Linked DNA regions of Homo sapiens: region 2 is linked to region 1. A link means that fine-mapping ties the variant in region 1 to the expression of a gene that starts in the linked region. Tissue or cell type: whole blood. Region 1 holds a variant in brackets; the other region holds the start of a gene. All regions are shown on one strand. Distances are from middle to middle.

Region 1 (4,391 bases):
TTTCACAGAACAACAGGAAGAGGGAGATCCCAGGAAAACACTGTTTTGCTGTACAGAGGTTCAGGTGGCCCCCTGCCCGCCCACCCTGGGATTGCTTTGCACCTGCAGCCTTAGCTGCACCTGTCTTGTCCACAGAGGCCCACGTTGGCCACTGGGGGCAGCTGCCAGGCCGGGCCCCATCCTGCGGAGGTTAGAGGAGGCTGCCTGTTTGTCACCAATGGTTCTGGGTGGGGAATGGCCTCTCATGTCTGTGAGCAGCCTCGGTGGCCGCAGGACACACAGAACACGGACACCTGGGCCAGGTGTCTGCAGTTCTGATGTCTGTGACGCCAGAGCCCCGCTCCCACTGGCCGTGTTTTCACACCCACCAAGCAGAAGAGATGCAGAGGCGGAGTTCCCAGAGTCAGGTGCAGCTAGACTTCCTCTCGATCTGGGGGGAGCGAGACTTCTTTCCTCCCAACATCAAAACAGAAGTCATAAGGAGAAGGCAGGCAAGCGCTGCAGAAACACAACTGATTTATCTGCCCAAAGAGGCCTCAGCACAGAAAACTCCAGGAGCAAGCAGTCACCACAACCCTCCAGAGGCTGCCCTTTCTGACAAAATGCTCCCTGCTCCCACTCGAGAGGGCCCCCTTGGAAATGGGGTCTAGATGCACCTCTGGGGACCTCCATCTCTCCTCCATTCTGAGCAGGGGCTGGGTCACCCTTGCTGGTGCTGGGCCTCACAGGGTCCGCAGGTGGCAGGAGACAACCAGACATGCCATGAGGCAGCGCAGGTCCAGGACGTACCTGGCAGGACGTGGGTGCCTGGCTTTGGCTCCAGCCGCCTTGTGCTGGGCATGCCCTGGGGAAGTCTTGCTTGCTCTGGGCCCATCTGCACAATGAGGGTCTTCGGCTTGAGCCCCGGGTGTCCCTGCCCTACCCTGCAAAGCCACTGCACCGAGACTAGCTTCGATGCAACTTGCGACCGGGCACCAAATCCAACTCAGACCTGTACTGCTGACCACCCTAATGGCCACCATAGGCCAGATCCCATCTTGAGCTCCAGACCCAATGGGCATGTCCCTGCTGATGTCCCACGCTCCTCTCAGCTCAATGTGTCTCAAACCTGATCCAGCACCTTCCTCCCCAAGCTCTCAGAATAAAAAGCAAACACCTCACTCCAGGGCTAAAGGCCCGGTATCTCCAGGCCAATCTCACTCATACCCTCCCTGCCTACTCAGGCTCCCCTGGACACATGGAGCCCCTCCCATGGAGTGCCCTCCATAGGCCAGGATCGCCCGCTTCCTAAACCTCTCTCTCCCGAAAGACTCTTCCTGCCATTGCATAGCCCAGCTGAAATGAAACAGCCACCCCAGCCCTATCAAAGCCTCCATGGAGCCTCTCTGTGCAGGCAGAGGGAATTTCGCTCTCCATTCTGGAGCCCCCCGCACCCAGGAGCTGGTGGGCCCTCCCTGTCTGAGTGCCTCTGTGGGCTGCAACCCTGATGCCTGGAAAAACAGGGTCAGGTGGCTGAATGAAGGACTGAAATGATGATCCATTTGGGGTGGGATCCTGCCTGTCAACACTAGGACCGGGCCTGGCGCCATGGCTCACACCTGTAATCCCAGGACTTTGGGAAGCTGAGGCAGGCGGATCACGAGGTCAGGAGATTGAGACCATCCTGGCTAACACAGTGAAACCCCGTCTCTACAAAAAACACAAAAAAATTAGCAGGGTGTGGTGGCGGGCGCCTGTAGTCCCAGCTACTCGGGAGGCTGAGGCAGGAAAATGGCATGAACCTGGGAGGCGGAGCTTGCAGTGAGCCAAGATTGCACCACTGCACTCCAGCACTCCAGCCTGGGTGACAGAGACTCCACCTCAAAAACAAAACAAAACAAAACAAAACACTGGGACCGGTGCTTCCTTGGGCATGTTACGCAATCTGAGTTTCTCTTTTCCCATCTGTAAAATGGGGAAATAAAACTGCCCTAGAGGGGCTGCATGGAGTTGAAATGAGATCACAAGCAGCTCGGGGCTCAGAGGGGTTTGAACAGCACCTGATGGTGCCAGCTGCACCACGACAGAGGGAGTGACCCACGTTGCCCACGAGCAGCCCCAGGCAGACACAGCACAAGGAGGACCACTGACCACCTCACCCCACCCACAAACAGTCCATGAAAGCAGAGACCCCAGGCATGCTGGGGCGGGGGAGGCCATGCTGGCCCTCGCTGGCTACTGGAGCCCTTCAGGGGCGAGGACAAGGTGGCAGACCAGCAAGGCTTGGCCAGCAC[A/G]TCCCAGCACGTCCAGCAGGGCAGCTGGCCATGGACATGCCCGCTGGTGGTGGGTGTGGAAGGACATTCCTGGGCACATTCTGCTCCTCTGGGCTCAGCTGGCCCCACCTGCAGCGCCAGAAGTGAGTGGTGGGGACAAAGTATATGTAGGGCCCTGGTGTTCCCTGAGCCCCACAGGACCTGCTGGAGACTGCATTTGCTAAGGCTTTTCTCACCTGGAGGCAAACCAAATACTGGCTTAGCTATTGGGTGGAGATGTGGGGAGACTCACCCCAGACTTACCCACCAGGGACCCTTCCTGGGGTGGCTCAGCCTCTTGCCCATATAAGTCCCGTCTCTCTAACCCAATGTGACACCTGACAGGGAGCCCCTAGTTCAGGGCTTCTGGACCACAGGGATTCAGAGGTGGGCCATGGGGGGTTGGGTTCTGTATTTTCTACCAGGACCGGGCCAGACCCACCCCAGCAGGAGGTCAGGATTCTGTGCCAGGTTCAGGCACTCAGGAAATGTTTCCTTAAAGAGTACTGGAGGTGCCAGGAGATCCCCAAGAGGGCTGAGGACAGGGCCCATCCTCAGCAGTGGGCATGCAGCCCGGGGCATGCTGTTTGCCACCAAACAGACACAGAAATAGAAAATCTGCTCTGTCTAGCTGAGTGGCCTTGGGCGGGTCATGGTGGGCATCACGAGGCAGACCTCTCGAGGCAGCTGTGCAGGCTGGATCAGAAGGGGTCCTGGGAAGACCCAGCTCAAGGCCCAGGGTGCTTGGCAGGTGGGGCTCCCACTCAGAGGCCCAACTCAGGCTCCAGAAGGGTTGGCCGGGGTGGGTCTCTGTTCTTTTGACTTTCCCAGGGACACACCTCAACATAACTATGAATTTTCTGATAGGCTTTTCCCCCCCTTTCTATATTTTCCCCTTTTGTTCATTACTGTTTAAATGCTTGGCAGAATATACAAACACAGCGCCCGCATCCCAGAGTGCCTAGCTGCGTCTGAGTGAAAGTGCTGGAGACAGATGCCTGGGGCGGGCATGGGGGGACCTCTCACCTCCATCAGCTCATCATCCAGGCACAAGGGACAGGCTCTGCCAGCCTCCTTTTACACCTGGAGAGACAGAGGTTGGTTTGGGCAAACTCCCACCGAGAGGCAGTGGCAGGGCCAGGTTCAAATCCAGATCTGTCTGTTCAAAGCCTGCACCCACCCTTAACCACCACGCTGCACCTCACTGCTACCATAAAATACCAGAATTCAGGATGGCAGAAAATCACTTTCTACCCCTAGGAACCCCCAGCAAGCCTTGCCTGCTGCTTGGTAAAAATTCCCAACTACAAGGCTGAAAGCCCTTGGGCAGAGCCACCACACCAACTGGAGCAGCAAAGAAGGCAATTCAGGGAGCCCTGACGGCTGCACCTTGCTACAGGTGCATTCTCAGGTGCACCCCGTGGGCTTGTCTGCGAGTGTGAGGAGCAGCACAGCCTCAGGCCCTCCACACCTCTCCGGCCAGCACCCTCAGCCTGCACAGCTCTGCGCGGCAGGTTGGGGAGGGATCGTGTTCCTGAGCAGCCAAGCCTTGGCCCAGAAAAGGGCAGGCAGTGGCTGGGATAACAAGGGGAGTAGGGGGCACACCAAGATGGCCCCTGAAGAATGTGCAGGGCTTGGAGCCACCCTAAATCATTCTTAAATCCATGTGTTTCTTCCTGTGCAGAAAACCAACCCAAAGGTGGAGATGCCATGAATCCCACCAGTCCGTCATCCCCTAGAATCTTGTCTTGTCCTGGGAACAAAGGCAGGGCATTTCTGGAGGTTCGTTCTGGTGTCCTAGCAGCTGCAGAGCCTCGAATGATGGCAGAGCTAATGTTTACTAAGAATTTACCCTGAGCTCCATGGGATCGCCCCACTAAACCCTCACCTCAACCTTGGGAGGGGGCGCTACTGTCATCAGAGGTTTGGTGAGGCCACACAGGGAGTGAGTGGGGAGGATCTAGGTGCCAGCAGTCTGAATCCGGGATCAGGCGCTGACCACCATGCAATACAGCCCCGAGCGCAGGAAGAGAGGAGGAGGAAAAAGACAGCCCCCGCTGCGGCAGAGCAGAGTGAGGCAACAGCCCGGCAAAGGCCGCA
Region 2 (4,195 bases), 110 kb after region 1:
TGGCCTAATAAGGAACAGTGAGTTTCACCTGGTCGGCTGACTCCATTCCTTCCCAAGTCCTCAAACCAGGTGGCATCTTTTAAACGAGTCCAGGATCTGGAGCAAGGAGGAATCTCCCTGCCAGCCGGTGGGGACTGCTGGGAACACATATGCTAGCATGTCATTTGGAAGTCTGCTAATATGTTGTAAGCAGCACAAGACGCTTGCCTGGCTTCCCAGGCCAATAAACAATGCCATTCCAACTCCTGCAGCAGTCAATAGGAAACAGTCCCTTTTCTCCACCATCCAACAATTGAACAAACATTTGTTCCTGTTGAACAACCGTCAGCCTGGCTCCATCTGCACCCGCTCCTGCAAGGCGAGCGCGGCGGCGAAGGCGACGGCACAAATGCCCACCCCAGGATCCCAGACCCGGAATGCAAGCCATTCCGGGGGCCACTTTCCTAACACCACCGAGTCCGGAGATTGTACCGTATGGAAGACTCGGAGTGTGGCCTATAGGAGGCAGAATCCCATTCATCAAACGCTGCAAAGAGCTTTTCTTTGTTCACCATCGTCCTAAGTACAGTACGTGTTAATGAGCCCGGGCGGTCAGATGGAAGGAGCTCGGCTTCAGGGGGCGTCCGAACGCGAGGGACCCGGGCAAACCTGTCCGCGCGGTTCGTCGCTGCTGCGGCGCCCCGGCCCGTACTACAAGCATTGTTCCCCAAGTCCGAAAATGGGGGTGGAGAGCTGGGGGCTGGGGGACAAGGTGGGGGGGCGGGGGGAGCGAGAACACACTTGGGACAACACAAACCGCAAACCCTCCCCGGATTCTGGGTGTCCTCGTTTCTTTCGTCTCTGCCCCAAGAGAAACCCTGAGCGGGGAACCTGACTCCCACGGGCTTGCAAAATCCAAGACTAGCAAAAATGTGACTCGACCAGTGTGCCTGTGCCGGACGGCCCTTCTCGCCATGTGCAAAAGCCACGCCGGCGCGGACGCCCCCACTCCGCAAGCCCCAGCGGTGGCCTCCCCGCGGGCTTCCCCCGCCCGGGACAGAATGCCCCCTCACCCCCATCCTGACCGCCCCGGACAGTCCAGCAGCAGCGGAGCCCGCCGCCTCGCTCCCGCACCCCGGGGGTGGCGGGTGCAAACTTCCGCGAACAAAAGAGTTGTCTGCAAACGATGCGGGAACTTCGGGGCGAATGGGGCCGCCCGGCTCCCGAGACTCCGCGCCTCCTCCGCAGCGGCTAGTCAGGGCTCAAGTTGAGACGCGGAGAGGACACCCCCGGGCGCAGCAGTCCCCGCGCCCGCCCGCCCTGGCCTGGGGAGCGCAGACTTTTCCGCCGCAGCCAGGCTTGTTCTTCCCCATGCCTGTGCTCTGACAAGTCTCACGCCTGCATCAGGGGCGAGACCGAGCGCCCGGAGAAACCGCCCGACCCAACCCAAAGGCGAAACAAGGCAGAAAAAAAGGAAACCAGCAACATTAGGAAAAAAGAAAAAAAAAAGGCAAGCCCATTGCGCACGCGAGCCGGGCTCCCTCCAGCCAGCGGCCGGGACGCACACGGCCCGGACCTCGCTCGGGGCCAGCCCCCCGGCCACCGCCGCCGCCGCCCGGCCCCGGGTCGCTTACTGTGCGCGGCGGGGCGCTCCGGGCGCGGACCCCGCGCCGTCACCGCCAGCGCTCGCCAAGTCGTCCGGGGTGCCCGCCGCGCGTCCGCCGCGCGCACGCTCGCCTGCCGGCGCCGAGCGCTTTGTACGAGCGACTCCCGGGGAGGAGGAAATCGACTTGTCACTTCCTGAAGTGTTTGCAACTCGTCCCTTTAACCGGCACCGGCCAGGCCGCCCGCACCCGCCGCCGCCGCGGAGCCGCCAGACCGCGGCTGCGTGAACTCGGCCCGGCGCTTAGCGGGCGGTGTCGCGGGCCCGGGCGCTAGGCGCGGCGGCGGCGTGCAGGAGGCAGGCGGCGTGCGGCGGCGGCGGCAGGCGAGTGTGCAGTGCGCGCAGCCGCCGATGGGCGGGGAGTGAGGGACTCGCGGCGCGCCGCCGGCGGGGCTAGAGGGCGTCCTGCGGGCTCAGCCGCGCGCCGCTCGCCGCGCTCGCGCCTGCGAGGCCCCGGGACGCGGGAAGTGGCCCCGGGCCTGGGCCGCGCCACCGCGGCTGCCCGGGCCCCGCGCCAGAGGCCCTACGGGCTTCTCTCCCCGCCCCCAGCACGAGCCGGGATGAAAACGCTGGGCCGCATAGGCTTCAGGCGTCCAGCTTCCGGGTTGTTAGATGCCGAGGTTCAAAAGAAACGATCACTTCAGTGGCGTGCAGGACAGCGGGCGGGTGGGGTCGGGGAGGGGGGACCTTAAAGTGTTGTCACACTTTGGGAAAATAAAGCGCAAATTTCCTAACTCGGGGCGCTGTGACTGTGTACTTCAGAAGCCACATCCAAAATACATGCAACTGGCGAAGGAAGGATTTGTGGTTGCTAAGCAGAGGCAGAGCATGTTTAGTTCTGTAACTTAGGATGTTGACTTAAGTTCAGGAATGTAACCCTGATAGAATAAGCAGAGTATTTTCATTGTGCTGCTCACCTGGGGGAGGGGGATTGTTTTCCTTGTGAAGCCCTAGATTTCCCATTACTCCTTCCTACTGGTGTATGTTATTTTATTGACCTTGTATCCAAAAAGCGATTTTTAAAGAGAAGTTTTTTTAAAACTCCCTATGCCTGTTTTGTGTTCTCCTTTGCCAAAAAAACAAAACACCTCATTACTTTACATGGATTGTGTCTGCGCCATTTGAATGGTTCTATTCATAAATAAGGAAACTTTTTCTGTTGCTTCTAGGAACATTTAATTGGTTTTAATCCAATGTTTCAATCCCAGTATCAAACATAAATGAACAATTAACTTCTTGAGCTTTGTGTGCTTGGGAAACTATTATATTTCATGGCTATTGCTGAAATATTTCAGAATATCATCACACCGGACCCATTCTTTTCAGAAAAGCATGAACTGACATCTCCTTTCACACTACAGCTCGCTCCACTGAGTTCTGCTGCATGATTAGAATGGACAGCAATCAGTGGAAAGGATATGAGTCTATTCATTTCAAGTTACATGATGTGGGATAGAGTCAGTTCATCCTAGAAAGCCAAAATGAGCTAACATACAGAATACAGCATACTAAGATATTGATATCCTTACCCATATACGTTGCTTTTTAAAAATGCATTAAGGACCAATCTTGAAAGGAACAAGATCCAAGAACCGATGGTGAACAAAAGAAGGCCCAAGGAATAATCTAAGAATGCTGCTATGCTTAACGAAAAGAGTCAGTGTTTCCCTAAAGCCATCTGATATCACACAATCACCTCAGCCTTTCAGAGCTTTAAGGACAGAGTTTAATTTACTAACGTTTTATTAGGAAGCCTAGAGTGACTCCTGCTGGCAAACATTCAGTTTATTCCTACAATTACTAGTTCATCAGGTCAACTTAAAAAACAAGATGCAGGGTCCCAGGCCTGGAAACAATTATTACAACCATTATTCTTGTTGCTTTCAGGATGATTTGCGTTTCACATTCCAAGGATGGTGGTCATGGCCAGTTCCTCTGCTGTAACACCTCCTTTCCAACCTAAAGCAGCCTGTTTTTCTGGTTCTGAGGCTTTCTTGAGGCTGTCTAGAATATACTTGCTTAAGAAGTTATGCTATTAACCAATAAATAGTTACTTCTCATTTTCTAGATTTGTATCTCCAAAGGCTAAAAAGATATGCATACATTAAGACCTGTGTCACACTTAACCTTCCATACTATAGGTTCTTCCCACATGATATAATAATCCTACAGCTATATTATAAAACATCCTCACTTCTTAGTGCTCAGCTCCATAGTTCTTTACTAAGAAAAAATTCTACCCAAAAGGTTGTTGTTATATTAGAGTTCTGCTCAATTCAGAAGAGTAGCTAAAAATGTAGAACTCTAGATTTAAAGCTATGTAAAAGCTGCAATGGGGTGGGGACATGGAGCTAAACTGTCTATCTTTGTTCAATCCAAAATGGTCAAAACCAGATTTTGCACACAACCAGACACCTAAATGCAAATTCATAGGCCAATTTAGGAATAAATCCATAAATAATCTAAAAACTATTACTTGTAACTTTTCCATTATCACCAACCAACGCTAACCTGATTAAGCCGGAGAACACCCTGGGAAATATAAAATGCAGG

The links. PIP is the estimated chance that this variant, and not a neighbour inherited with it, causes the effect.
Region 2: it holds the start of FAM53B, and the variant in region 1 is fine-mapped to the expression of FAM53B in whole blood (TOPMed, PIP 0.95).

The regions. Positions count from the first base shown.
Region 1 is chr10:124,636,512-124,640,902 of GRCh38, forward strand. All of the region lies in intron 4 of FAM53B (family with sequence similarity 53 member B), which reads right to left. Among named protein-coding and RNA genes, the nearest start is that of FAM53B-AS1, 65 kb to the right of the region's middle. RefSeq lists enhancers at 1,702-2,202, 3,361-4,100. The variant A/G (reference allele first, on the strand shown) is at 2,274.
Region 2 is chr10:124,742,400-124,746,594 of GRCh38, forward strand. FAM53B (family with sequence similarity 53 member B) reads right to left here and starts at 1,979. Exons shown (of 5, transcript NM_014661.4): 1 at 1,614-1,979. RefSeq lists silencers at 858-937, 1,028-1,237, 1,558-1,717, 1,768-1,877, 1,898-1,947 and 1 more.